2 separate regions of the Homo sapiens genome follow, and region 1 is linked to region 2. The links come from fine-mapping of genetic effects on gene expression. A gene starts in region 2. The other region holds a variant in brackets. All regions are shown on one strand. Distances are between the middles of the regions. Region 1 overlaps HSD17B11 (hydroxysteroid 17-beta dehydrogenase 11). Region 2 holds the start of HSD17B11 (hydroxysteroid 17-beta dehydrogenase 11).

Region 1 (15,576 bases), 29 kb after region 2:
CTGTAGTCCCAGCTAGTCGGGAGGCTGAGGCAGGGGAATCGCTTGAACCTGGGAGGCAGAGGTTGCAGTGAGCTGAGATTGTGCCACTGCACTCCAGCCTGGCAACAGAGAGAGACTTCGTCTCAAAAAATAATAATAATAATAATAATATCTAACTTATTTAGAATGCTATAAGATTTAAATCATACAATGTATTGCACTTAGCATAAAATCTGAAATCCTGCAAGTGTTCAATAACAGGAGGTTGCCTGTTGGCATTACATTTCAATTCCACTTCCTGTTATTCACACAAAACAGGGAGTTCCCACCTCTAATTTTAGCTTCCAGAATGCTTTGCCCCAGTGGAATTCATCATATATGCTCTGACGCCTAGTTTTTGGGATGAAATGAGAGGAAAAATAAGAGTATTGATCCTTTTCCCTGTAATTCAGCCCTCATCTATCATTGTCCTGAGTTACTACAGCCACAGAAAATAATTTATTCTAGCTCTAGTAGCCTATCTTAGGAAAAAAATTTTAATTTCTTTTCAGAGTTTTAGTTCAACAGTTTTAATGATTAATATGAAGAATGCAAGATAAAAGAACTGGATTTATGGTGGAAGGTGAAGCTTTTGATTCTATTCTAAAATGTTTTTTGCTGCTTGCTAAGTAATTTGTTCACAAGTATTTTGATTTTTAAAAGAAAACAATTAGCTAGCTAATATATTCTGTCAACCCAAATAGCCAATTTATAAGCATGAAAAGTTGCCAGTATGGGAACGCTCAGTAAAACTGAGTTCTGAACATTAGCTTGTAACAAAATGTTATTTAAAAGAAAAATCTGGGGCCAGGCATGGTGGCTGACACCTGTAATCCCCCAGGCTTTGGGAGGCCAAGGCAGGAGGATCACTTGAGCTCAGGAGTTCAAGAATAGCTTGGGTAACATAGCAAGATCTCATCTCTACAAAAAATATTTTAAATTAGCTAAGTGTGGTGGTGCGTGCTTGTAGTCCCAGCTACGCAGGAGGCTGAGGTGGGAGGATTGCTTGAGCCCAGGAATTGAAGGCAGCAGTGAGCCATGATTTCACCACTGCACTCCAGCCTGGGCAACAAAGACAGACCTCAACACAAAAAGAAAAAAAAAAAAAGAATTTGGAATAAGAAGTACTAATTCAGACTATTTTTTTCAGCCCTCCAAGACATCTGAATAATTTAGACTATTTCTAATAAGAAGGAATTTGATGTAATGTTACAAAGTGCAGGGGGCAAAAATCTACTCACTTTTAGCTTTCATATATATATATGCCTTTCTATATATAGGTTCACCATAAAGTTGAAAAATATGTTATTCCTTTTACACACTCAAGATCATTAACTCTGACTTTCAATATATTCTTGCATTTTTGGTCACTTAAGTAAAATCAGAAAATAAGGTTTAGTAAAAGAAAAAACTAAATTTATGGATAGCTTCACCATGCAGAAATGTTAATGGAAAGGAGTCCCGATCCAGACCTCAAGAGAGGGTTCTTGGATCTCGTGCAAGAAAGAATTCAGGGTGAGTCCACAGTGCAAAGTGAAAGCAAGTTTATTAAGAAAGTAAAGGAATAAAAGAATGGCTACTCCATAGACAGAGCAGCCCTAAGGGCTGCTGGTTGCCCATTTTTATGGTTATTTCTTGATGATCTGCTAAACAAGCAGTTTGTTATTCATGCCTCCCCTTTTTAGACCATGTAGGGTAACTTCCTGCCATTGCCATGGCATTTGTAAACTGTCATGCGCTGGTGGGAGTGTAGCAGTGAGGACGACCAGAGGTCACTCTCGTGGCCATTTTGGTTTTAATGGGTTTTGGCCATCTCCTTTACTGTAACCTGTTTTATCATCAGCGAGGTCTTTATGACCTGTATTTTGTGCTGACCTCCTATCTCATCCTGTGACTTAGAATGCGTTAACAGTCTGGGAATGCAGTCCGGTAGGTTTCAGCCTCATTTTACCCAGCTCCTATTCAAGATGGAGTTGTTCTGTTTCACATGCCTCTTGACATTTCCCCCTTCCCTTTTATAAGAGAACTCTTAATCCTAAGAGTTGCAGACGGATGAAAATCCATCTTTTGTAACTTCTTCAGGCTGAATGGGGCCATGATATTCCTGCCTAACTGTTAGGGTCTCTTGTGTTCAGGGTAGAGAGGAGCTTAGTCAGAAAGCATCAGTGTGGCGAGGGCCATTCATGACTCTTGAGTTTTTTGTGTGTGTGTTTTTTGTTTTTTTGAGATGGAGTCTCGCTCTGTCACCCAGGCTGGAGTGCAGTGGTGCGATCTCAGCTCGCTGCAAACTCTGCCTCCCGGGTTCATGCCATTCTCCTGCCTCAGCCTCCTGAGTAGCTGGGACTACAGGTGCCCGCCACCACACCCGGCTAATTTTTTGTATTTTTAGTAGAGACGGGATTTCACCATGTTAGCCAGGATGGTCTTGATCTCCTGACCTTGTGATCCACCCGCCTCGGCCCCCCAAAGTGCTGGGATTACAGGCATGAGCCACCGTGCCTAGCCGACTCTTGAGTTTTGACAAGAGGTGATATCTGGGAGATTAATAAGTATTTAGTTTAAGAAAACATTTAGTAAGCCTGTCCTGTGTTCCCACACAAAGGGTATAACAGCAATATATTCCATAAGAGTAAAGCAAAGTAAGTAAAGTTATTCCAAGTAAACTAAATTAGAAGGCTTTCCATGAACTGGGCAACTGTTGAGACCAAGCTGATATGGGGTTGCTAGCTGATTGCAATGTGCCTAGAATTTTACATTACCCATCCCTCTTGTTTCTTCTGAGCAGCAGTTAGAGATCCCTGGTTGGTTTACAGGAATAAACAGGGTTAGCCTAAATTGCAGAAACAAACTTAAAAACAACTGAGACTAGAATTTAATAACAAGTATACTATAGTTCTTGAAATATAATATTCTCTCTCCAGTTTCCCATTTTTATTAAAGACACATTATGGTAAGACTGATTTGCTTTATTATACTTGGTCTGATTATTTGTATAAAGTGCAGCGAGAATAATTATTTTTCACACAGGCTTTTTAATTGGCTTTGATGGAACTCTGTTTTATAAGGAATCTCAGGTAAGACTTTTTTAAAGCTAAGCCCTGCCATGGGTTTGTACCCTTAAATACCTATGAGTTGGGTAAAACACTTTTCTTTTGAGGTCCCAAGTTAACTTGGGCCTCCTGGACCTGTAAGAAAGTGACATTCTTTACTTACCATAGGTCAGAAACCCTGTACAGGGACTGTGTAGGCAAAGTATGAGGCCAGTTTCCCATAGGGCTTTTATTGGCTTTACAAGTCAAGTTTGATTCTTTAAAGGAAAGCACACCATTCCAGTCAAAGCCTTGGTAAAATAACCAATTTCTCCAATAGTGTCCCATTACAAAAGAAAACAGATTTTTGTTGCACTTATACAAACAACTATATTGCCATAAGTTAAGAATACTTACAATTGGTTTCCATTCCGGAGAAATCAGGTAGAGAGAAACAAATATGTTTCAAATTTTGTTCATAGGAGTATATTTTACTTAATTGCTGCAAGCTGTAAATAGCTTAAAAGAAGTTTCCTTTGAAAAATAAAAGATCAGCAATATTTTAAGCAAAGTTAAAAAAAATTACTTCAGTTTTCTATTGGTTCAGTTAATTCAGTTAACTCCTGTTCTACTTGTTATTCATGAACATTCCAGCTTTTTATGAGAGTTTCGAAAGTTGTTTTCTTTATTTTAATGTTACAATTTCTAAAGTTATTAGCAACCTGCATTTAAGAACATCTGCTAGAATTCTATAGTTGATTATAAACCACCTTTTAAAGAAGATTAAAACAAGACAACAACTGTCTGTGGATGATAAAAACTTTAGGACAGCCACTATTAAAGCCACAATTGATAAGGAAATTTGGTTACTTTTGTGGCATACAAAATTTTACATAACAATTATAATTATTAGTAACATACACTAAGTCATATTAGAAATAAAGGAGTTTCTTATAACTTTGGAACATATACCAATAACATATTTATACAAATATAGTCCAAAGAAAGCAAAACACTGTTTCACATTTGAGAATGCTTCCTGGATGATTTTTATACCAAATAAGCGAAATTTCACCTTTACATTAATGTATTATTAATGTTAAACCCAATTTTTAATAAAACCTTAGAGACATATTTACCCAATTTTAATGTTTAATCCTAAGGTAAGATTTTATAAACCTTTATAACCCTTTACATTTTTTTGTGAAAGCGCAGATAAGTCCTCTAAGAGAAACCTGTTGTGCTTTTATTCCAATGTTTAATTTATGGAAAAACTGAATAATACCCCTTTAACTTTAGCTAATATGTTCATACACAGAATCTCTTACAATTAATTTTTATAAACCTTCCACAAAGGCCAGGTGCAGTGGCTCACACCTGTATATCCCAACACTTTGGGAGGCCAAGATGGGTGGATCACCTGAGGTCGGAAGTTCAAGACCAGCCTGATCAACATGGAGAAACCCTGTCTCTACTAAAAATACAAAATTAGCCAGGCATGGTGGCACATGCCTGTAATCCCAGCTACCTGGGAGGCTGAGACAGAAGAATTGCTTGAACCCGGGAAGCAGAGGTTGCGGTGAGTCAAGATCACGCCATTGCACTCCAGCCTGGGCAACAAGAACAAAACTCCATCTAAAAAAAACCTTCCACAACTTCTTTAAATCTTTTTTTTTTTTTCACTTAACACAATCCTTTAACACTTTAATCTAGGCAGAAAATAATCCGCATTCCCATGCTTCTTCTTACAATTTTTTTTTTAACCAAAAACACATTTCACCTTTTTTATACACCTTGCATGTAAAACTGTTTCTTCAGTAGTCTTAATTACACATTACAATGCTAACTTCTAGCAACTTTTATTTTTGATGAAAACGTTGGTTAAGTAAGGGATTTTAATTATGTACTAGGTGTGGAGACTAGTCTAGGACACACCAGGCAGAAGTGCAGATAAGGGCTGACTCTCCAGCATAGCCAGGGGCATGAGGCCTTATCTAGAATCTGATGGCTTTAAAGTAGGTAAATAGAACAGTTTTCAAAAGTTAAAGAAACAGTTTGTCCTTAAAGCATTTAGCAAATCTGATATCTGACCTTAATTTAGACCAAATGTCTACATTTTTAAGACATTTTATTTTACCAATAAACTTTAAAACTGTCTTTATTTTCAAAAGATTACTAAAGTCACACGAACAAAAAGGCATTAGTTTCTATTTTTCTGAAAAAATATTTACGCACTTACTTTTCTAAGTCAATTGATTAGAGCTTTGTAATATATAAACATACACTATAAATAGAAGATTCAGCACTTA[T/C]ACAGTTTTTCGTTTGCCAGTTTCTTTTTTTTTGAGACAAAGTTTCGCTCTTGTCACCCAGGCTGGAGTGCAGTGGCATGATCTTGGCTCACTGCAACCTCTGCCTCCCAGGTTCAAGTGATTCTCATGCCTCAGCCTCCCGCGTAGCTGGGATTACAGGCGCCCACCACCACACCCAGCTAATTTTTGTATTTTTACTAGAGACGGGTTTTCCCCATGTTGGCCAGGCTGGTCTTGAACTCCTGACCTCAAGTGATCCGCCCACCTCAGCCTCCCAAAGTGCTGGGATTACAGGCATGAGCCACCTCGCCCCACCATTTGCCAGTTTCTTAATTGGATGACAGGTTTCAGAGTGGAGCCCTTGGAGGAACAGAGCTGGGACAGCATGCATTTCTAGGGCTAAATAAGTAGCAAATAAGCAGCTGAAGGCAGACAGATCTCCAAAATTAAAGGTGGTATTTTATACTGGATCCTGGATCCCCAAAAGGAGGGAAATACTACGGGAGAAGACAATGCAGTGCTTTTACCGACTGTGCATTTCATTGCAAGGCAACCTAAAGCCAATCAGCCCATTTTGTAATCAGCCCATCCTCATGAGAGTCTCATCTCCCAGTGAGGGGTGAGGATGTTGCCTTATCTTCCAGGTGGCCTAGAGCATGCTTCTCTGATCCAAGTGTGCAGAGTCAAGTATCCCTCCATAACTACTATTAGCCACCCCTTAAAGTACATTTCCTACCTAGTTGTTACACACCAAAGCTCTCTCATAATGCAAAGTAATTGCTGATAACCCCCCTCCCCCAAACTCAAAACCGTCAGATAACACAATGCAAAACAGAACAGAGCCTTTGATTTTGAGAGGAATCTATCTGCTTTTAATTCTTGGGGTCTCATGAGGAAAACAGAGGGGTTTTTTTTCTTTTTTTTTTTTTTTTCCCAAAACTGGATCTGTGGTGCTGCCTTTGTTTTTCCCAAGTAGTCCCAAGCTACCAGAAGTTATCTACGGGCCTTTCATGTGAGCATTAATAGTAACAAGACAAAACAAAACAAAACAAAACAAAAAAACAAAAATAATTCACTTGACTGAGAAGAAAAAACCTTTTTCCAGCAAAACAAGCTTCAAGAAGAGAAAAACATAAAGGCCTTTTAAATATATTTATAGCTTATTCCACTTTTAATTAAGCTGACTTTTCACCATAGTGCTCTTTAAAGAAGAAATCCTTTCAGAGCTCTTATTACCCGACTTTAGCCATGCCAAGCGGCCAATATTTCCAGCTTCTGAACTTTACCAAAGGTAAACTCCTAGGTGCTTAGAAGAAGGAAAATTGAAGACAGTCCATGGAGGAGAAGAGAATAGACACATATATTAAATCAGTAATGACTTATTTCCTGGGTGGGGAATTGAACCTAGACTGCCACTGTGAAAGTGCAAAACCTTAGCTACTGAGCTACAGGTCTGGGCAGTGTCTATTTCTTTTCTCAGAAGTAGTCTAGATTAGTTAATTTTGAGCTTGCAAAGGCTTTTAACTATTTAATATGATTTTCAGAGCTGGCTATGACATGAACTTTAAAATTCTTGTTCCCTGGAAGACAGAGCCCAAGAGAAGGTACTGCCATGCGGTTAAAAGGTCAAGCTCCCAAGCACATAAAACAAGGTGGAGACTTCATCGGGTTTTTTGTTTGTTTCAGGGACCTGCAACCAAGTTTGTTACTGACCAGCTTGCTGGGTAGTCTTGAAAAGCGGGCTTACAGGTGTTCTAAGCCCATGTTTTATCCTGAAGTACCCCTCTACACGGAAAAACGAATTCATAGCACAAAATACACCAGCTTAAGACTAGCCTTAGAATTCTTTTTCGCATTAATTAAGTCTTTACAGAGGTGATAAACACTGATTTTTTTTCCATTCATTCAACTGTTTGCACAGAGAGAGAGAAGCTAAAAATCTGACTGGTAACAAATTCTTAGCCTTTTGCTGGCATGCCAGGCTTCTGGGTTCCTTTTCCCTGAGCAGCCCTAGTGATCGGGCTTGTGGCACCATCTCCCCGGGGGCCAAGCTGCATCATAAAGGAAAAAAATTTTTTTTTTCATTTTGACCAGAGCAAAATATGCATGATAAAACATAGACATTAGCTACTCTGCTTAGCACCCAATATCAAACTGGCAAGGCTTAAATTTACCCCCAGTTGGGCCCCATCATCTTTAATCCAACCTCTGACTTGGAATTTCAACATGTGGTCTCTGGGCAAGAAGGTCGCCCTGAGAAATAGAAAAGATAAGAAAGGGAAAGGAAAAGTAGAGACGGAAAGTATTGCCTGTGGCAGGGTGGGGAAGGCAAAATGATCAGGGAGGCCAGAGAAAGACCCACCTATTGCAGCAACACTGAAAACTTCAGGCTGCTGCTGTCGGTTGAGCAGGGATCTTTTTCAGCAATCCTGTCAGCTCTCAAGTTTCCCCTTTTAGGCAGGAAAAAGCTCCCCATGTCCCACGATCCTGTGCATGCCTAACCCTGTCACCCATAGCCATCAGCAAAGAGTACAAAGGCAGATTAATCCAAAGAGAACAGCAGTTAACATCCCATAGTGCCAAACCTGTTCTTAGCTGAAAGGGACTTTACTGAGAGGGTCCTCTAACCCCCTAAATCTTATTCATTTTATTTATTATTTTATTATATTTTATTTTTGAGATGGAGTCTCGCTCTGTTGGCCAGGCTGGAGTGCAGCAGCACAATCTCGGCTCACTGCAACCTCGGCCTCCCGGGTTCAAGCAATTCTCCTGCCTCAGTGTCCTGAGTAGCTGGGATTACAGGCATGCATCACCACGTCTGGCTAATTTTTGTATTTTTAGTAGAGACCGGGTTTCACCGTGTTGGCCAAGCTGGTCTCGAACTCCTGACCTCAAGTGATCCACCCGCCTTGGCCTCCCACAGTGCTGGGGATTACAGGCGTGAGCCACTGCACCTGGCCTAACCTCCTAAATCTTAGAAGGGACTCTAATCCTCCTAAGTCAGGCCTCTAACTTGACGTCAGTCAAGTGTCCTTGCCTTTTATTAAGAAGGACCTGTAACCCACTCTGTCTTAGGAGAGACTCTAACTCCCCTAAGTTGGGCCTCTAACCCAATCCCATTCTTTACCCAGGTGTAGGCACCCCACTTACTCAAAGTCAGCCCACTGTTGTGCCCTGATGATTTTCCTTTGGGTCAGGGGTCTCTTCAGTATTGTAACTCTATGGTCTGCCAGAAATATGTTACAGGACCCCAACACTTACCCAAAGGTAGCCATAGGGTCAGGGTTTCTGCACTTTAGTCCCTTCGTGGTTGCCAGAAAGATGTTACCAGAAAGGGGTCCCGATCCAGACCCCAAGAGAGGGTTCTTGGATCTCATGAAAGAAAGAATTCAGGGTGAGTCCACAGTGCAAAGTGAAAGAAAGTTTATTTATTTTTGAGACAGAGTCTCGCTCTGTTGCCCATGATGGAGTGCAGCGGCGCGATCTCAGCTCACTGCAAGCTCCGCCTCCCGGGTTCACGCCATTCTCCTGCCTCAGCCTCCCTAGTAGCTGGGACTACAGGTGCCCGCCACCATGCCCAGCTAATTTTTTGTATTTTTAGTAGAGACGGGGTTTCACTGTGTTAGCCAGGATGGTCTCGATCTCCTGACCTCGTGATCCGCCCGCCTTGGCCTCCCAGAGTGCCAGGATTACAGGCATGAGCCACCATGCCCGGCCGAAAGCAAGTTTATTAAGAAAGTAGAGGAATAAAAGAATGGCTACTCCATAGACAGAGCAGCCCCAAGGGGTGCTGGTTGCCCATTTTTATGATTATTTTTTGATAATATGCTAAACAAGGGGTGGATTATTCATGCTTCCTCTTTTTAGACCATGTAGGGTAACTTCCTGACGTTGCCAGGGCATTTGTGAACAGTTATGGCGCTGGTGGGAGTGTAGCAGTGAGGACGACCAGAGGTCACTTTTGTGGCCATTTTGGTTTTGGTGGGTTTGGTTTTGGTGGCTCCTTTATTGCAAACTGTTTTATTAGCAAGGTCTTTATGACCTATATTTATTTTGTACTGACCTCCTATGTCATCTTATGACTTAGAATGCCTTAACCATCTGGGAATACAGCCCGGTAGGTTTCAGCCTTATTTTACCCAGCTCCTATTTAAGATGGAGTTGCTGTGGTTTACATGCCTCTGACAAAATAATCATGATATGCATGTTATAATTTTTAAGGATATTTTAAATGCAAACATATAGTTATGCATTGAAAAAATATATAATTTTGGCTCTTAATTTAAAATAATATATGTTAATAAATATTATGTGCAACATCGTTTTCTATTTCTGCGTGGGATACCACTGCACATACGTGCCACTAGTTATTCAATTTACTCATTATCATTGGTATTTTGTCACTCTTTCAGTTGCAAGGAACAAAAAACTTAAACTGCCCCAGGCCCAAAGAGGAATTTTTTGGCTCTGTGATTAAAGTCTCAAGCAGGCTGTCTTCCTCTGATGGCCAGATATCTACCAGAAGTTCCAGGGTTAAACCCTTTAAATTCCAAGTCCAGCAGGAAGGGAAAAAAAACATCACTTCAACAGTGGCTTCAAACGTTCTTGTTCTAGAGGTCAGTGACTAGACTAGCCTGGAGCCAATCACTGTATGCATTTGGTGACAGCGGTATTACCAGAACAAGGGGACACAAATGCTGATGGGAAAAAACAACAGCTGTCCACTACAGACATTTCACATTATTCCCAACTATTTGCTTTAATGAACTGCACTCCAGGGACTATCCTTGAACATTAATCTTTGGAGACATCATTGATTATTACCTTGGGATAAACACCGGATCTGAGAGCGTGGCATACTTTTAATGAATTTGATACCTTTTGCCAAACTGCCTTCCAGAAAAGGCTACCAGTTAACCTGTGCTTTGGAAAATAGAAAGCTGTGGAAAGAAAGTGTTTTTTGTCACTTTTTTGAAAGTTTGACATATATTGAATGAAGCCTTAAAAAGAAAAGATTGCTAGATTCAATTATATGAGGTGAAATATCTGTACATTGAAAAAAACTCAGATGAAAATTTCTGTCCTTATAATTACTGCTAGGCAAGAATTCCGTCTTGTTTTACTTTGCTTTTATATGAATTATTCCTAAAGTAAATCATTTTTATATGCCTACATCTACTGGCATTTTTATATTATGATTTTTCCATGAATGCCCTTTAGCCATTTATCTATTAGAGTATTGTCTTATTCCTTTATAAAAGTTGCCATATATTAACCTTATCCTTGTCTTATATGTTGCAAATGCTTTACCAGTTTGTCACTTGCCTCTTAATTTGCTTGGAGTTAATAAAGTTTAGAATATATCATATATAAACCTGGTTTACTACCCACACGTAAAACCTGATTCTGCCACTTTGTTTTGTATCTTCAGGCAAGTTTGATAACCCATCTTTACCTCAGTTTCCTCTTTGGTAAATGAGGATCTTAATATATTTTATAGGGGTATTATGAAGATTAAACAAAATAATTATTTAGAATAGGCCAGGTACTGTGGCTCACACTTATAATCCCAGCGCCGTGAGAGACTGAGGCAAAAGTATGACTTAACCCCAGGAGTTTGAAACCAGCCTATGCAACGTAGCGAGACCCACATCTCTACAATAAAGTAAAATAATTATTCAAGTGTTGTGGCACATGCCTGTAGTCCCAGCTACTTGGGAGGCTGAGGTGATAGGATTGCTTGAGCACAGAAGTTCCTAGGTTGAAGTGAGCTATGATTGCATCACTGCACTCCAGCCTAAGTGACAGATAAAGACTCCCCAAAAAACTCCAAAATGCATCAGAATAACTGAGGGCAATGTCTAGCACTTAGTAATCTATTTTAGATCTGATTTTTATTTATGTTGTTTTTCAGTATACAGAAGCTTTTAATCTCATATAATTTAATCTAACAATCTTTCTTTTAAGCCTTCTGTATTAGTCCCCTCTCACCCTGCTATAAATAACTGCCCAAGACTGGCCAATTTATAAAGGAAAGAGGTTCAATTGACTCACAGTTCTGCGTGGCTGGGGAGGCCTCAGGAAACTTACAATTACAGAGGAAGGGGAAGCAGGCATGTCTTAAATGGCAGCAGGAGAGAGACAGCGAGAGAGAGTAAGAGCAAGAGACGAACTGCCAAACACCTAAAAAACCATCAGATCTTGTGAGAACTCCCCCACTATCACGAGAACAGCATGGGGAAAACTGCCCCCACGATCCAGTCACCTCCCACCAGTGCCCTCCCTCAACATGTGGGGATTACAATTCGGATTACAATTGTTGATGAGATTTGGGTGGGGACACAGCCAAACCATATCAGCTTCAATAAGTGCCTAAACTTTTTTTAAAAAGGTAAGAAATTTTTTTTAAAATTTTTTAAAAAATTTCCACAGCTTTCTGTCTTCCAAAGCATAGATTAACTGGCCAGAATGTATAGCTACTTTGTGTAATTGCTAATTCATACAGATTTAACAGAATAAAAGATTATCTGATAATTATTGCCACTGAATTGCACACTTAAAAATGGTTAAAATGACATGTTTTACATGATATATATTATACCACAACTTTTAAGTTAATTATATATCAAAAACCATTTAATTGTGTACATTAAGTGAATGCTTTGTGTGACATATGAATTTATATCTCAATAAAGCCCTTTTTAAATTAAAAAAACCTGAGAAAGTAATGTCCATTTAGAATAAGTAATTTCACTACTACTTCCAAATGAAAGAGCTGTTAAAATAAACGCTTTGCATTGTGATTCATTCATTTGACAAATATTCATTGAGCACCTAAGAGCCAAGCACTGTGCTGGGCCCTGGAGATTCACTGGTGACCAAAACAGTCATGGAGCTTATAGGAAAGGTGTGGGAAACAGATGTTTTAAAAAATTTAATCTCAGCTGGGCGTGGTGGCTCACGCCTGTAATGCCAGCACTTTGGGAGGCCGAGGTGGGCAGATCACGAGGTCAGGAAATCGAGACCATCCTGGCTAACATGGTGAAAACCCGTCTCTACTAAAAATACAAAAAATTAGCCGAGCATGGTGGCGGGCGCCTGTAGTCCCAGCTACTGCGGAGGCTGAGGCAGGAGAATGGCGGGAACCCGGGAGGCGGAGCTTGCAGTGAGCCGAGATCGCACCACCGCACTCCAGCCTGGGTGACAGAGCAAGACTCTGTCTCAAAAAAAAAAAAAAAAAAAAAAAAAAAAAATTTCTCTAATGAATGTTCAGTTACAAATCTGAGATAGATACTATCATAGAAAACTGAAAATTACTATATAATGAGAAAATAATTTAGACTGGGGGTTAGGAAAGGCCTCTTTGAGGAAGTGAAGCTGTGACTTAAAGGAAGAATAGGATTTATCCAGGAAAAGTTTTCAGCAAATTCTATGGACATCTTAAAGTAAATAAGGAACAGCTTATAGTGACACTGAATTTTGTGGAACAACAACAAAAACAAATACTCTACTAATTTTCTTTAAAAGGCTTTTTAAGGAAATGTTCTTATTCCGTAAGTGATGCTAAGATGCAGTAAATCTTCTATGTCAGGGCTTCTTGGACCTTAATGTGCCTACAGATTTACCTGAGAATCTTGTAAGATGTGGGCTCTGATGCAGTAGCTCTGGGCTGGGGCCTGAGACTCAGGGAATGCCCACATTGCTCTGCAGAGGACCATGCTGAACTGAGGAAAACAGGCAGACATTTCAGAATTCTTGAATTATTTTGTAAACTCTCTATTTTCAGTTCAAGCAAGTTTGCTGCTGTTGGATTTCATAAAACTTTGACAGATGAACTGGCTGCCTTACAAATAACTGGAGTCAAAACAACATGTCTGTGTCCTAATTTCGTAAACACTGGCTTCATCAAAAATCCAAGTACAAGGTAAGTTGAGAAATTGAGACAAAAGGATTGGTGGTTGCTATGAATACCAGCCATTCTGTGGGTTTTCCTAAATGTTTTAATCCTGAAAACACCTGATAGTTAAAGCTCTTAGTTCATTTTGATTTCAGTTTCTGCAGATTGTGGGAAAACAGGTGGAAAGCCAAAAAGAGAGAAAGCAAGGGAGCGTGACTAAAAAAGTAAATATGAATGACATTGGTAAACTTGCTAACTCTTCCTTTTTTCTTCTCCTGAGTAATGATTCACAGGCTTAAATATGCATACATGTCACCAGGTGTGCTTGGGAACTATGTTGGGGCTTCACCCTCAGATATGTTGACTTACTGGGTTTGGTTGGGGTAGGGTAGTGGCAGGGAAGGGAGCCTGGAACTCTACATTTAAAAAAGGTGATTATCATAGGTGATTCTGATAGAGATAACCCAAGACCACATGTGAAAAACACTTCCCTTGGAGGTAATCTAGAGATTAGCCTCCGAAAGGAGTACCAGATCATACTCTTTACTTGGTTAAAAAATAAAATTATAAAGGATTAATTTGAAGATAATTTTTAATGTTTTCTCTCTTTAGAAATAGCTTTAATGTCTTTGTAAACATGATGCATACTTATTTGTTTAAATTCCAATGTTAATGAAAAATACAAATCGAAAAGTTTCTTTTTTAATTTCCTTAAAACCCTCTATTGAGTGGAAACCACTCTCAAAATTTTGATAAACATCCTTCTAGACTTCTCTGAATTTTCTATAACTGGCGTATGTTACACATGGGGTCCTGGAAGCAGCAAGTATACTGCATACTTCCCTCAGCATTATGTTACAGACATCTAATAAAGTACAGAGCATTATAATAAATTGTATTGATTATTGGGAGCAATAGCATCTCCTAGTGATGATTTTAGGGTTGTTTTTAGTGTTCTGGATTTTTAACAGCAAATCAGCAATAAGCATCCTCGGGCACACATATTTTCACTTTTGGATAATTATCTCCCTCAGGTAGATTCATAAAGGGGGATTACTGGGCCAAAGGGTATATAACTTGTAAAAATTCCTACATATTGCCAAACTCCTCTCCAGAAATGCTCCACTGATTTGCACTCCTACCCACAGTGCAGGGAGAGCAACTTACTCTCTACTTCTTCATCAGTCTGCCTTCTGTGACTCTTTTAATCACCGCCAATCCAGTACGCGAAGAATCATCTTTGTTTTTACCCTGATGACTAGCTACATTCATGTTCGCATATGATTTTTGGACATTGCACTTCCTTTTATGAATTGCCTATTTTCATGGCATCAGCTCACTTTTTGCTATTGAGCTCTAGAGTTGTTTTTGTTTGTTTCTTTGTTTGTTTTTTGTTTTTTTTGAGACAGGGTTTCACTCTGTTGCCCAGGCTGGAGTGCAGTGGCGCAATCTCGGCTCACTGCAACCTCCACCTCCCAGGTTCAAGCGACTCTTGTGCCTCAGCCTCCCGAGTATCTGAGATTACAGGCACGCACGACCACGCCCAACTAATTTCCGTATTTTTAATAGAGATGGGGTTTCGCCACGTTGGCCAGGCTGTTCTCAAACTCCAGGCCTCAAGTGATCCGCCCACCTTGGCCTCCCAAAGTGCTGGGATTACAGGCATGAGCCACCATGCCCAGCTGAGCTCTAGAGATTTTTAATTAATACATAAGAAACAATTCTTCATACATTTGAGAAACCCCTTTATATATCACATCTGTTGCATATGTTTTTTTTTTCCCCAGTTGTTTTTTGTTTGCTTTTAAGCCTATTTTCATTTAGTTTTACATTAAAATTTTCTTAGGGATTTTTTTCTCATGGACTTTAGGTTCTGTGAGGTGTTTAGAAAGGTCTTTCTCATTCCAAGTTTTTGAAAATATTTACCCATATTTTTTCTAGCATATATTTTATGGTTGCATTTTTCATATTTAAATCATTGCCCCACCCAAATTTATTTTGATTTAAGAAGTAAGGTCACAGTATAGTTTTTTCCAAATAGTTAATGAGTTTTCTGCACTATTTATTAAATAATACATCATTTTCCTCACTGATATTAAATTCATATTATAAGTTCACATGCTTACTTGGATAGACTTTTGGATTCTCAATTTTATTGTAATGATGAGATTCAATTTTGCTTGGTTTTGTTTTGTTTTTCAGACAGGGTCTCATTTAGGCTGAAGTGCAGTGGTGTGATCATGGCTCACTGTAACCTTGAACTGGGCTCAAGCAACCCTCCACCTCAGCCTCCTGAGTAGGACTACAGTGTGTGTGCCATCAT
Region 2 (15,576 bases):
ATCAAAATGGCCATGTGTTAAATCTGCTAAATAGTCAGTCATTCTAAATCTATATTATTAAAACTCAGTTTTTCTCCAATGGTGTATGCTAATAAACATAATTTAGTAGTATATTATAAGTATTATTTAGGCTAATTTCAATGAAATAATTTAGTATTATAAAGCAGATTGCTAGCTGGGCGTGGTGGCTTATGTCTGTAATCCCAGCACTTTGGGGGGCCGAGGTGGGCAGATCACCTGAGGTCAGGAATTCGAGACCAGCCTGGCCAACATGGTAAAACCCCATAAATACAAAAATTAGCTGGGCACGGTGGCGCCCACCTGTACTCCCAGCTACTCCAGAGGCTGAGGCCAGAGAATCACTCAAACCTAGGAGGCGGAGGTTGCAGTGAGCCAAGATCGCACCACTGTACTCCAGCCTGGGCAACAGAGTGAGACTACATCTCAAAAAATAATAATAAAATAAGAAATAAAATAAATGAGATTGCTTACACAAAGGTATGTAACACTTTTTTTTTTCTTTTAGACAGAGTATCACTCTTTTCACCCAGGCTGGAGTGCTGTGTCTCAGTCTCAGCTCACTGCAACATCTACCTCCTGGGTTCAAGTGATTCTCCTGCCTCAGCCTCCCAAGTAGCTGGGATTATAGGCACCCGCCACCACTCCCAGCTAATTTTGTGTTTTTAGTAGAGATGGGGTTTCACCAGGTTGGCCAGGCTGGTCTCGAACTCCTGACCTCAGGTGATCTGACTGCCTTGGCCTCCTAAAGTGCTGGGATTACAGGCATGAGCCTCTGTGCCCAGCCAACACATTTTTTAAACATGTTGAGATGGATAATACTAAAATTGCGGTTCTTGATTGCAGTGATATGTGATAATGTGTAATTTATTTGATAATCTCATCATTAGAGCTGCGAGCATATTACCACTTGTAATAAATAAAAGAAAGTCATTTTTCTCGTTTTAATTTTTTCTTAAAGTGGTATCATAGTTATTAATTTTCTAGGAAGTTATCATTGAAACATATGACATGTAATTTGCAAAAGTTATATCCAAACCCATATTTCAAGAACTTTCTTGTCATATCTTAGATTCAAAATAAAGATCCATTGAAAAGACCTCTTCTCTGTGTGGCTCTTCCTGAATACTTGGACAGCTTCCACAGCTATGGACACTATAAAGCAAAAAGTGGGCAACAGCCAGGTCATTTTACATGTTGGATTGATGTGATTTATAGTGCGGAGAGACTCAGGTGGGAGCAGAGGAGTCCTAAAGAAAACTGCCCATTATCCTAATGATTTATTGGATATTTATCTATTGATCATCTCTGTGGTTTTCTATTTGTTGGTTGGTTGGCTAGTTTTATGTTTGTTTTTTGAGGTTTTTTTTTTCTGTTTTCTCCAGATTCTAAGGTCTACTGACAAAAGGAGTGTTTGGCTGAAAGAAGCCAACTAATATCCATTTAAGGTGGATCTTCTCTCTAGTCTTTACAAATCCAAGGACATCTTAGAGGCCAAAAAAAGGTGGTGGGGGAGGGACATTTCAAGAGTATAACCTCAAAGTCAGAGAGACCTAGATTCCCACATTATGAACCATAGAACATTCGACAAATTACAGGCATGCCTCATTTTACAGCACTTCATTTTATTGCGTTTCACAGATATTGTGCTTTTTACAAATTGAAGCTTTATGGTAACCCTTCATTGAGCAAGTCCATTGACACAATTTTCCCAAAAGCTCGCTTCATGTCTCTGTGTCATATTTTGGTAATTCTCACAATATTTCAAATCTTTTCATTATTATTACATCTGTTAAGATGATCTGTGATCAGTGATCTTTGATGTTACTATTGTAATTGTTTTGGGACACCAAAAACCACATATCTATATAAAACAGCAAACTGAATCAATAAGCATCATGTGTTCTGACTGCTCCACCAACAGGTCGTCTCCCTACAACCCTCTTACCTGCTCCCCATAATCAGGCCTCCTGTTTCCTGAAACCCAGCAATATTCAAGTTAGGCCAATTAATAACACTACAGTGGTCTCTGAGTGTTCAAGTGAAGAGTCAAATGTGTTTCACTTTAAATCAAAAGCTAGAAGTGATTAAACTTAAGGCATGCTGAAAGGCAAGATAGGCTGAAAGCTAGGCCTCTTGCATCTACAGTTAGCCAAGCTGTGAATGCAAAGGAAGCATTATTGAAATCAATTTAAAGTTCTATGCCAGTGAACCCACAAATGATAAGAAAGTGAAACAGCCTTATTGTTGATATAAAGAAAGTTTTAGTGGTCTGGATAAATCTAACCAGCCACAATATTCCCTTCAACCAAAGCCTAATCCAGTTCAAGACCCTAACTCTCTTTAATTCTATGAAGGCTGAGAGAGGTGAGGAAGCTCCAGAAGAAAAGTTCGAAGCTAGTGGAAGTTGGTTCCTGAGGTTTAAGGAAAGAAGCCATCTCCATCCCATAAACAAGTGCAAGGCAAATCGGTTTCTTGAGATGGAATCTACTTCTGGTAAAGATGCCGGGAAGATACTGAAATGAAAACAAAGCATTTAGAATATTCCATAAACTTAGTTGATAAAACAGCAGTAGAGTTTGAGAGGATTGACTCTAACTTTGAAAATACTGAGAGGTGACAGCATGCTGGCAGTCCTCAGAGCCCTCGCTTGCTCTCGGCACCTCCTCTGCCTGGGCTCCCACTTTGGCGGCATTTGAGGAGCCCTTCAGCCCCCCACTGCACTGTGGAAGCCCCTTTCTGGGCTGGCCAAGGCTGGAGCCCACTCCCTCAGCTTGCAGGGAGGTGTGGAGGGAGAGGCACGAGTGGGAACAGGGGCTGCGTGCGGCGCTTGCAGGCCAGCTGGAGTTCCGGGTGGGCGTGGGCTTGGTGGGCCCCACACTCGGAGCAGTCGGCCAGCCCTGCTGGCCCCAGGCAATGAGAGACTTAGCACCCGGGCCAGCAGCTGCGGAGGGTGTACTGGGTCCCCCAGCAGTGCCAGCCCACCGGCGCTGTGCTCGATTTCTCACCGAGCCTTAGCTGCCTTCCCACAGGGCAGGGCTCGGGACCTGCAGCCCTCCATGCCTGAGCCTCCCACCCACTCCGTGGGTTCCTGTGCGGCCCGAGCCTCCCCAAGGAGCACCAACCCCTGCTCCACGGCGCCCAGTCCCGTCGACCGCCCAAGGGCTGAGGAATGCAAGCGCACGGCACAGGACTGGCAGGCAGCTCCACCTGCAGCCCCTGTGCGGGATCCACTAGGTGAAGCCAGCTGGGCTCCTGAGTCTGGTGGGGACGTGGAGAGTCTTTATGTCTAGCTCAGGGATTGTAAATACACCAATCGGCACTCTGTATCTAGCTCAAGGTTTGTAAACACACCAATCAGCACCCTGTGTTTAGCTCAAGGTTTGTGAATGCACCAATCAACACTCTGTATCTAGCTGCTCTGGTGGGGCCTTGGAGAACCTGTGTGTCCAAACTCTGTATCTAACTAATCTGATGGGGACGTGGAGAACCTTTGTATCTAGCGCAGGGATTGTAAATGCACCAATCAGCACCCTGACAAAACAGGCCACTCGGCTCTACCAATCAGCAGGATGTGGGTGGGGCCAGATAAGAGAATAAAAGCAGGCTGCCCGAACCAGCATTGGCAACCCACTCGGGTCCCCTTCCATACTGTGGAAGCTTTGTTCTTTCGCTCTTTGGGTCCGCGGTGCTTTTATGAGCTGTAACACTCACCGCGAAGATCTGCAGCTTCACTCCTGAACCCAGCGAGACCGCGAGCCCACCGGGAGGAACAAAAAACTCCAGACGCGCTGCCTTAAGAGCTGTAACACTCACCGCGAAGGTCTGCAGCTTCACTCCTGAGCCAGCGAGACCACGAACCCACGAGAAGGAAAAAACTCCGAACACATCTGAACATCAAAAGGGACAGACTCCAGACGCGCCACCTTAAGAGCTGTAACACTCACCGCGAGGGTTCGCTGCTTCATTCTTGAAGTCAGTGAGACCAAGAACCCACCAATTCCGGACACAGTACTACTTTGAATTCATAGATTCATTATAGAAAAAAAAAAGTGTCATTGCACACAAGCTAATGTCTAAATTTCTCCAGCTCTAAAATTCAGACTTCGGAGTCAAATTGTGAAGTCTTCTATCTCAGGATGACAAGAAAACTATGGGAAATACCTCTGTTGGTAGGTCTGGCAATCATTTCTGTATATTTTTCCTCAGTATTTTTTATAGTGAAAGTGAGCATTCTTCACTGGCCTGTGTAATTGCTAAGTGTTACAGTGGTCTTTCATTCCTAATCTGCTGGGATACTACAGAGACAGCCTTGCAAATACAGGCGTCTTACTATAACTGATTAACATATAGTAATGGCTGTCATTCACTAAGTATGTTTGTATGCAAGATGTGCTTTTATATATATCTCATTTACTCTTGTGCTTTTTACTCTTATGAATGACTCTGTGCTTTGTATATATGTCATTTACTCTTCACGGCAACCAAGCTGCTATTACATCCATTTTACAGATGAGGTAACTGAGAACTCAGGAGAGGTTAAGTAATTAACCAAATATCACACGGCTCATTAAAAGCTTGGTAGGAATTCGAACGCATTCTTTTAGCAGCTGCAATCTATTCCCTGCTAATTAGATATTTACCTAATTGTATGAAAGGGAAGTGTTATTAATGTTGTGATTCAAAATCAGGAGTTTTGATCTTTTCGAATTTATCTAATGGTTCAGAACTGGATTCACTTTTCTTTTTTGCGTTAGGGAAGAAGGCAGCTAATTGCTCTGGCTGGGACTCCCAGTTTAAAAAAAAAAAAGCCGGTGACGACAGCCTAGGTTTAAATTCAACTCTACATTTATACTATGATCTCAAGTGGTTTGCTTAGTTTCTCTTAATTCTTTATTTCTTCATTCATATAATAGAGATTTCTATTGAACCTACTGCTTAAGGTTATTGAGAAGATAAAATGAAATGTGTTAGGTGAGGGCTGAGAGAGGTGAGGAAGCTCCAGAAGAAGCATATGCCTGGCCATAGTAAGTAAGTGTTCAAGACACTGATGAAAGACCCCTATTCTTCTGGTTCAAGTTAGGGTTTAAAAAAAAAAATTAAAGAAAAATACCCCCTTATCCTTATCTTTTTTTTTTTTTTTTAAATACTATTTCAACTTCTGGGAAGGCAGCATGTAATTAAGATGCCCCACATAGGCTGGGTGCAGTGGCTCGCACTTGTAATCCTAGCACTTTGGGAGGCCAAGGCCGGTGAATTGGTTGAGCCCAGGAGTTCAAGACCAGCCTCTACCAGGGTAGGGACACCCTGCCTCTATCAAAAATACAAAAATTAGCTAGTCTCATAATCCGGTCTCAAAATAAATAGATAAAAAATTTTTTAAAAAACAGATGTCCCAAGTACAAAATATTTTAAACCCTACCAATGAAAGATGTTTTTTAAAACCACAAATACATAAAATCACATAGTGGTCAGATAGAAGCTAATCTGTGTTCTAACTGTGAATGATTTTAATTGTAAACATCTAGTTTGCTGTTCACAAAATCATGTTACAACCATCATTCACAAGACCATTCACATCACTCACATTCTATTGGTGTTAATTATAATTTACATAAAGTTGAATAGTTGATAAAGCAATGTGCTTTCTATTAACTCGTTTGAACGTCACAAGAATCCTGTAGGGTAAGTATTATTTCAATTTTACAAATTTAGAAACATGTTTAGAGAGATGAAGTCACATACACATAAGGGATTCAGGTACGACTGCGTCCAAATGCTGTGTTCTTTCCCTTAACCAATGAAACCTTGATCAACTGTAGGTTAAAACTACCCAGTTTTTTTTAATTAATAGAATGGAATAAGAAATAGCATAGCCAGACCGTGTGCCATGGCTCACGCCTGTAATCCCAGCACTTGGGAAGACCAAGGTGGGTGGAACAGGAGATCGAGATTGAGACCATCCTAGCCAACATGGGGAAACCCTGTCTACTAAAAATACAAAAATTAGCTGGGTGTGGTGGTGCGTGCCTGTAGTCCCAGCTACTTGGGAGGCTGAGGCAGGAGAATCGCTTGAACCTGGGAGGTGGAGGTTGAGGTTGCTGTGAGCCAAGATTTCGCCACTGCACTCCAGCCTGGAGACAGAGGGAGACTCCTTTAAAAAAAAAAAAAATAGCATAGCTAGAGCCTCAATATATGAAACTCAACATAGTTGAAACACTTCTTATAGTAGATCACCATGTCAGATGTAATTTATTCCTGTAGGTGTTGGACCAAAAAATTGACAAACACTGAACATATGTGTAGCCCCAGTTACACTTTTACTCACTGTGTAGATTTTAAAGTTGATCTAACAGATTTATTCATTTACAGTATAGGTATAAATATATCCTGACTCTACTTTTCTCTATTTCCTAGGAGGCTTTTGAAAATCAAATGAAATAATATATGTGGAAGAACACTTTGTAAACTTTCTATACAAGTGTTTTGTAAATTTGGATTTGGAGGCTATCCAAAAAAAAGTTGTAGATATTCTGAATTCAAAGAATTCTATAATGGGGTTCACTTTTGTGAGGCTGCCACTATCCCTTCATCCCCTATAACAACGTATGGCTGCTTAAGTAAGAGGGACAATCGAGTTTGAACTATTTGTGAACTTTGATTTTTTTGTGTGATCTTTCTGGCTCTTAAATATGAAAGTTGACTATTGTCACACAACAAAGTCCCTTCCCAAGCACTGGAGTGTCTTGCGCAAAACCCAAATCCAATGTCTGTCAAAAATGAGTTGGAAAAAAATGCATGCAATACCATTATTAAGCTCTTACTGGACACAAGCCCTAGTTAGGTCTTTTCTTCCAGTAACCAATCTCTAGAATTTTTTCAAGTCACTAGTTAGCATATACTGAATACCCATTTATATAGGCTACAAAACCAAATGTTACATAGGTAATCTTTAGGCTAAATGATTTGCTATTTATTCACTTGAATAAAGATAAAATTCCTAAAGTACAACATATATTTTTTATTTTCAAACTCTAATAGGTCAAGTGAAAAATGATTATTCAAATATACTCTTCTTTCTTGTGGAAACAATCCCTTTAATACGATAACAATTTTTTCTGGCGCTTGATTGAAGCTGTCCTTGAACAGACAAAATTTCCCCTGTCTTCCAGAAATCGTGCTTAGTTCAAACTAAAATGTGATGTAGCGCAATTTCTCAGCTGGAAGCAGAACGATTGGTCTTTTCAGGATCCTTTAAGATAGGAATCTACATTTGCATCCTCTATCTAGTTTTTGTTTTTTAGGACAAAGTCTGGCCTTTTCGTCCAGGCTGGAGTGCAGTGGCGCGATCTTCACTCACTGTAGCCTCCACCTCCTGGACTCAAGCAATTCCCGTGCCTCAGTCTCTCGAGTAGCTGGAACTACAGGCACACGCCACTACGCCTGGCTAATTAAAAAAAAAAAAAAAGAGACCGGGGGTCTCCCTATGTTGTTCAGGCTGATCTCGAACTCCTGGGGTCAAGCGATCCTCCCGCCAGGGCTTCTCAAAGTGCCAGGATCACAGGCGAGAGCCGCCGCGCCCAGCGGCACCCCCTATCTAGTGATAAGCAACCTTCAACTATGAAAGAAGCATCTGGCCTGTGGACACTGTCGGTTATCCTTGGAACTTATCCAATTTAGGAAAACAAGTGAGCAACTAACCCTCCAAGGCCGGCTCACGACACCGGGAGAAAGTGGTGTAAAAGACAATCGCGGCCACACACCGCGTGGGGGCTGCGCAAAGCAGAACTAGGAAGCTTTGCTCCGGTCTGGACTTCGTCCCTCCCAGATCTCTGAGCTAGCAAGCACTGCAGCCCGAGCCAATTGCGAAAGACCAACAAAGCCCAGCCCAGCGGAAGGAACGGTTTCGGAGTTGTTTTTCTTTGATACGGGAGTTCCTCCTTGCTCTCGCCCCTACTCTTTCTGGTGTTAGATCGAGCTACCCTCTAAAAGCAGTTTAGAGTGGTAAAAAAAAAAAAAAACACACCAAACGCTCGCAGCCACAAAAGGGATGAAATTTCTTCTGGACATCCTCCTGCTTCTCCCGTTACTGATCGTCTGCTCCCTAGAGTCCTTCGTGAAGCTTTTTATTCCTAAGAGGAGAAAATCAGTCACCGGCGAAATCGTGCTGATTACAGGAGCTGGGCATGGAATTGGGAGACTGACTGCCTATGAATTTGCTAAACTTAAAAGCAAGCTGGTTCTCTGGGATATAAATAAGGTAACAGTGTTTACTATGTTTTACTTTCTGGTACCTTTAATTTGTGGATGTGTCTGCATTTTGCTGGCAACCACCCTTTACCTCATCTCTGCAAAGCAGGGAGGAAAAAAAAATTAGTATTGCCATTTTGCAGATGGGAGGGCATGAATTAATATGTTGTATGATCACATGATAAACAGACCTAGAGGTTATAATAGTCCCAGTTACTGCCCCATTTGTAAATTGATCCCCATTTTTGCCCTAAGGATAACTCATAATTTTTTCCTGAACCTGATTTCATTGATCCCTCTATTTTAAAAATAGGGAAAAAACAATCGTTTTAGCTATATATTAAAAGAGTAAGAAGCTTGTACCTATTAAGAGAAAGTCCTACTTACTGTTAATGAGAAAAGTGGTTTGAAAGATTATACTCGCCGTTGGCTCACGCCTGTAATCCCAGCACTTTGGGAGTCCAAGGCAGGCGGATCGCGAGGTCAGGAGATCGAGACCATCCTAACACACTGAAACCCCGTCTCTACTAAAAATACCAAAAAAAAATTAGCCGGGCGTGGTGGCGGGCGTCTGTAGTCCCAGCTATTGGGGAGGCTGAGGCAGGAGAATGGCGGGAACCCCGCGGGGCGGAGGTTGCAGTGAGCCAAGATGGCGCCACTGCACTTCAGCCTGGGCGACAGAGCTAGACTCCGTCTCAAAAAACAAACAAAAAGATTATACTCAACAGAAACCAATGCTACATTGCCATAGTTATTGCCAAGAGTAATTTTAAAAAGCATCTTTTCCGGGAGGCTGAGGTGGGGGGTTGCTTGAGCCTGGGAGGTGGAGACTGCAGTGAGCTGTAAACGCCCCACTGCACTCCAGCCTGGGTGACAGAGTGAGACCCTGTCTCAAATTTTTTTAAAAAACATTTTTTACCACGTTTGACCTGTGATACTGAAGGAGTGGCGGGAAAGCATCTTTTAGTAAAAACAATAAAAGGGAAAAAAACTTTCAGTGTAATTTTTTACCTAGGACAAGTGTAGGTGTGGCTTAGGGAGGAGAAGAGGACCTAGAATCCAACCTTTTATTTGACCTTTGGTAGATGAACAAAGGGGTTTCTAGAAGATACCTGATGGCCTGAAACATTATCCATTACACACTAGTTGACATGCAATGCTGTAAACAATAATTCAAAGGATGTGAAGTTAAATGAGGGTTAACCCAGTGAGTGGCTGATGAAGACAGCAATCAACAAATAATGACTGTCTGCTGCTTAGACATTAGGGATAGGGTGACAAACAGAAAATAAGGTTCCATGACCTCAGTCTAGTAGGGAAAATGGACATTAAGTAATTACAAGTGCAGGCTGGATGCGGTGGCTCACACTTGTAATCCCAGCACTTTTGGAGGCCGAGGCGGGCAGATGACCTGAGGTCAGGAGTTCAAGACCAGCCTGGCTAACATGGTGAAACCCCATTTCTACCAAAAATACAAAAAATTAGTTGAGCGTGGTGGCGTGTACTTGTAATCCCAGCTACTCATGAGGCTGAGGCAGGAGAACTGCTTGAACCTGGGAGGCAGAGGTTGCAGTGAGCCGAGATCATGCCATTGCATTCCAGCTTGGGCAACAAGAGCAAAACTCTGTCTTAAAAATAAATAAATTAATTAAATTAAATTAATAAATAAAAAAGTAATTACAAGAGCAATGAAAAATACAACCCAGGTCCAGCCTGGACCAGCATGGTCAAGGTCTGGCATGGTGATATAGTCAGACACATCTGAGCTTTCGTTTTCTGATTGGGTAACTTACTCAACGTTTCCACAGCTTTAGTTCCTTTTCTGCAAAATGGATAAAATAACAATACATACCTCAAAAAGCTGTCAGTATGATATGAGATAATGCATACAAAGCATTTAGCACAGTGTGGTATAAGGTAAACACACTGCAGTGTTCTTATTATTCCTTGACAAAGTGTGGTTTAAGCTAAAATTTAAATGTATGTAAGAGTTAGTTAGGTTAATGACTTCCAATGTCCAGTGCTGGTTTGTACAAAATTTTCTCTGATCTTCAGTGACATGCATTTATCCAACAAATATTTATTGAGCACCTATTATCTGTTAGGCACTGTTCTAATGCAGAACTGAGGATATAGCACTGAGGAAGACATGAGCCTCATGAGCTAGGGGCAGTATGCCACACTGTATAATAAAATGTATAATTGTTAGATGGTGTTAAGCATAAAGAAAAAAATAAAAGGTGAAAGTAGATAAAAGACTCTATATGGTGGGGAGGGTAGGAGGGGAGTGTTGACTTTACAGTGGTGGCCAGGAAGGCCCCACTGAGATGGAGATAATTGAATCAATATCAGAAGAAGCTGAGAGCACAGTGAGTCCTGCAGGGAGGGATCAGCAAATGCAAAGCCTGGCATAGACTGAGGGAAGGGAGAGAAGCACAAGAAAGGTCTAGATCTACTCTGTGCAACACAGTGGTAGGTAGTAGCCCCTAGCCTCTTGTGGCTCTTGAGCCTTTCAAAATGTGGCCAGTCTGATTTGAGATGCACTGTGAGTGGAAATACATGCTGGATTTTGCAGACTTAGTATGAAGAAAAGAATGTAGAATTTTGTGTTAATAATTTTTATATAGTATACATGTTGAAATGATAATTACTTAGATATGTTGGGTTAAATAAAATATGCCACTAGATTGTTTTTTTTTTTTTTGGTGTGACTACTAGAAAGATTAAAATTATATACATGGCTTGCGTTATATTTCTATGAGACAGTACCGGTGTAGAGATTTAAAGGGCTGGAGCTACAGATGATAAAATTTCCTGTATTTTGGCTTTTTACTCTGGGGAGTCAATGAAGGGTTTTGAGGGTAATTCCTATTGAAGAGGATCCTCCAGCTGCTGGGCTTAGGAGAGATGTAAGAGGAGAAAAGATGGAAGGAACAAGTAAAGTAAGAGACTACTGTGATAATCCAGGCATGAGATGAAATGATGGGGACTATTGAACCGGGTTGGCAGTAGCAGAGATTCGGAGTAATGGTCAGAAAAATTGAGGACAATGTAGTGAGTTTTTATTAGGTTAAATTAGTTTAATTTAAATAATCTATATTTTATTTTGAGATTATATCCTTCCTACTTTTTGTGGGTAAAAAATATATTTGTTAATGAAATTACATGATAACATATGAGGGTCATTTTGTTAGTTTTGAGTGTCCTTATTTGGCCAAAAGTTTGGCAATCCTAGTTCGGTATACACATCCCACTCTATTTTTCTTGCCGTTTTATAGATTTGAAATTATAGAAGGCTGAGAACCACTAAACCTGATTGGGAAAGGACAGGGTGGGGATTTGGAGCAGTCCAGGTAGCAGAAACTGGAGATGTGAAGCTCTTGGGCTGGTGAATACCTGGAGAATGAGGAAGAAAGTGGAGTGGTGTTTGATTGTTATGAGATCTAGCTGGCAGGGCAGGGAGGGGCCAAACGGAGGGCCCTTTCACCTAGAGTACAAAGACAATCTCTTAGATTCATCCATGTAATGAGGACAGCAGTGTCCACATGTACCATATGTTAATTTAGGGAAGAATTAATGGTGGTGTCAGCTTTGTTGTTCCACTAAGCCTGATAATGGGAATTATTCATTCTGCTTTGTGATAATCTATCACTTCTTGACTATTCTCATTCCCATGCTTGGTTAGAATAGTTTGTAGCCAGGCATGGTGGCATGCTTCAGTAGCCCCAGCTACTCAGGAGGCTGAAGCAGCAAGATTGCTTGAGGCCGGGAGTTCTGGACTGTGGTGCGCTCTGCATGTCTGCATAAGTTCAGAATCAATATGGTACCTTCTGGCGGTGGGCATGAAGGAGACCAAGTTGTCTAAGGAGGGGTGAACCAGCCAGGTTGGAAACGGAACAGGTCAGAGCTCTGGTGCTGTTCAGTAGTGGGATCATGCCTGTGAATAGCCACTGCACTCAACCTGCGCAACAGGGAGACCCTTTTTCCTAAAATACTAGTTTGGAAAGAAAAATTTACAGTAAGTGGTGAGCATATAATATATGCTCAAAGACTATTTGTTGAATGAAAAACTGAATTAATGAATAACTGAAAGAATAATGGGCATAATTTAAAAAGTTTTTCAATTTTTAGTAATCAAGGTAATGGGTGTAAAGGTCTTAGTTGTACCAATAGACAAACATATTTGAAAAAAGTTACCAAGGGAAATCTTGAAGAGTTATGAGCAATTGTACTGTGCTGCAAAACATTTTAAAGGAAGAATTCATTTTTTTTTTGAAGATCTGCTTATTTTTTATTTCTTACCAACTATCTACAGGGCACTGTCCGGAATTTTTTCTGGAGGAATTTAGAACTTAAATTTGTTGCACCGGCCGGGTGCAGTGGCTCACCCCTGTAATCCCAGCACTTTGGGAGGCCGAGATGGGAGGATCACTTGAGGCCAGGGGTTCAAGGCCAGCCTGGGCAACATGGTGAAACCCCGTTTCTCCTAAAAATATAAAAATTAGACGGGTGTGGTGGCGCATGCCTGTAATCCCAGCTACTAGGGAGGCTGAGGCAGGAGAATCACTTGAACCGGGAAGGCAGAGGCTACAGTGAGCTAAGATTGCACCATTGCACTCCAGGCTGGGTGACAGAGCGAGACTCCATCTCAGAAAAAAAAAAAAAAGTTTCACAATTCAGAAGGTGTGGAAAGCAGACCAACCTAAATGAGGAAGACCAAGGAAACAGGGCAAAAGTGAGACAGCGGATGTGAAAGAAGGGTATCTTTGCATCCATATAGTGGAGTGGTGGTTAGTTGCTTGGTGGTTACAGAAAGCCAACCAGTAATAAGCAAATCTCTGAAAACAGAATAAATGGGACATAAATTTTTATTGTAAAATTTGTTCATGTAAGGAAATATATTTGTTCAAAAAAGAGAAGACCCAATCAATACAATATACTTTTTTTTTTTTTTTTGAGATAGAGTCTCGCACTGTTGCCCGGACTGGTGTGCGGTGGCAAAATCTTGGCTTGCTGCAACCTCTGCCTCCCGGATTCAAGTGATTCTCCTGCCTCAGCCTCCCAAGTAGCTAGGATTACAGGTGCCCACCACCACACCCAGCTAATTTTTTATATTTTTAGTAGAGGCAGGGTTTCACTATATTGGCCAGGCTATTCCCAGAATCCTGACCTTGTGATCTGCCCACCTCAGCCTCCCAAAGTGCTGGGATTACAGGTGTAAGCCACCGCACCTGGCCAATACAATATACTTTTAAAAAACTTTTTAAAATATGGTAAAATATATGACATAACACACCATTTTAACCATTTCTGAGTGTACAGTTTAGTGGCATTAAGTACATTTACCTTATTATGCAGTGATCTCTTCTATTTCTCTCCAGAAATTTTTCATCTTCCCAAGATGAAAATCTGTACCCATTAAAACAATATATCTCCCCAGCCCTCTCTCTCCCCAGGTCCTGGCAACAACCATTCTATTTTCTGTCTCTATGAATATGATACTCTGGGTACTGCATATAAGTACATTCATATGGTATTTGTTTTTTGTGTCTGGCTTATTTCATTTGGCATAATGAAGGTTGTACGTGTAGCATGTGTCAGAAATTCATTTCTTTTTAAGGCTGAATAATATTCTATCCTATGTGTATACAACATTAATATACTTGTAAAAGGAAATGCCAAAAGCTGCTGGTTAAGTATAGGAGAGCAAAATAAAGTTTACCTGAGATGTTGATGTCCCTTGAGGAATAAGAGTTCCTCATGAGAGTATACTACAGTTTGTGAGGGAGATTTCAGTAAAAGAAAAATATTGTGGGAACCTGCCCCCAATATTTCAATGTAGCTTCTTTCTATTTTCCATAAGTGTCAGCCGGCTGAGAAATAAAGAGAGACAGTATAAAGAGAAATTTTACAACTGGGCCGCTGGGGGTGACATCACGTATCATGATGCCCCTGAGCCTCAAAACCAGCAAGTTTTTATTAAGAGTTTCAAAAGGGGTGGGGGTGTAAGAACAGGGAGTAGGTACAAAGATCACATGCTTCAAAGGGCAAAAAGCAGAACTACTGATAAGGGTCTATGTTCAGTGGTGCACATATTGTCTTGATAAACATCTTAAACAACAGAAAACAGGGTTCGAGAGCAGAGAACCGGTCTGACCACAGATTTACCAGGGCAAAGTTTTTCCCCACCCTAATAAGCCTGATAGTACTGCAGGAGACCAGGGCGTATCTCAGTCCTTACCTCAACCACATAGGACGGACATTCCCAGAGCAGCCATTTATAGACCTCCCCGTAGGAATGCATTCCTTTCCCAAGGTATTAATGTTAATATTCCTTGCTAGGAAAAGAATTTAGCAATATCTCTCCTACTTGCACATCCGTTTATAGGCTGTCTGCAAGAAGAAAAATATGGCTCTTTTTTGCCCGACCCCACAGGCAGTCAGACCTTATGGTTGTCTTCCCTTGTTCCCTAAAAATCACTGTTATTCTGTTCTTTTTCAAGGTGCACTGATTTCATATTGTTCAAACACACATGTTTTACAATCAATTTGTACAGTTAACACAATTATCACAGTGGTCCTGAGGTGACGTACATCCTCAGCTTATGAAGATAACAGGATTAAGAGATTACAGGCATAAGAAATTATAAAAGTATTATTTGGGCACTGATAAATGTCCATATTAAAATGAAATCTTCACAATTTATGTTCTTTGCCGCGGCTCCAGCCGGTCCCTCCATTCGGGGTCCCTGACTTCCCACAGGAGAAAAAGAACTTGTTTCCCTTTATTATCATAACAGTTTCACTATGCAAGCTACTAATTCTCCCCACAGCTGTCCAGATTTGGCCTTTCCAACATTAGTTGCCATTTACAAATGTGTACACTGATTCACCATCCTCTCTGTGGATAAATGTATGAGTCCTCCTAGGGTCTGCCCATTAGTGCATTAGTTGACAATTATTAGGTTGATGCAAAAGTAATTGCAGTTTTTGTCATTAAACTAATGGCAAAAACAGCAATTACTTTTCCAACAACCTAATACTTGGCCTGCAGAATGCACAATACTAGATCTTCATCCAAAATATCTTTTGAGACATTCTCTTAAAAGTTAAAAAAAAAAAAAGGCAAAAATTGGCCAAAAGCAAACAAGCAAAGATAACAACAACAACAAAAAACCCCAATGGTATGATCCTAAACTTAAGTTGACTCAAAATTGGCGCCCCAAATTGGACTCATAACCCCTTTTCCTCAAATCTGCTGTCATCTCTGTCTGACATGTGGCAGCGTGATCTTGCCAGCTACCAAAA

The links. PIP is the estimated chance that this variant, and not a neighbour inherited with it, causes the effect.
Region 1: its variant is fine-mapped to the expression of HSD17B11 in whole blood (TOPMed, PIP above 0.99).

What each region holds. Positions count from the first base shown.
Region 1 is chr4:87,354,983-87,370,558 of GRCh38, reverse strand. It overlaps HSD17B11 (hydroxysteroid 17-beta dehydrogenase 11), which reads left to right. Exons shown (of 7, transcript NM_016245.5): 5 at 13,143-13,280. Among named protein-coding and RNA genes, the nearest start is that of HSD17B11, 28 kb to the left of the region's middle. The variant T/C (reference allele first, on the strand shown) is at 5,357.
Region 2 is chr4:87,383,563-87,399,138 of GRCh38, reverse strand. HSD17B11 (hydroxysteroid 17-beta dehydrogenase 11) reads left to right here and starts at 7,951. Exons shown (of 7, transcript NM_016245.5): 1 at 7,951-8,278. The coding sequence starts at 8,069. It also overlaps the pseudogene RN7SL681P. RefSeq lists enhancers at 7,084-7,656, 7,670-7,739.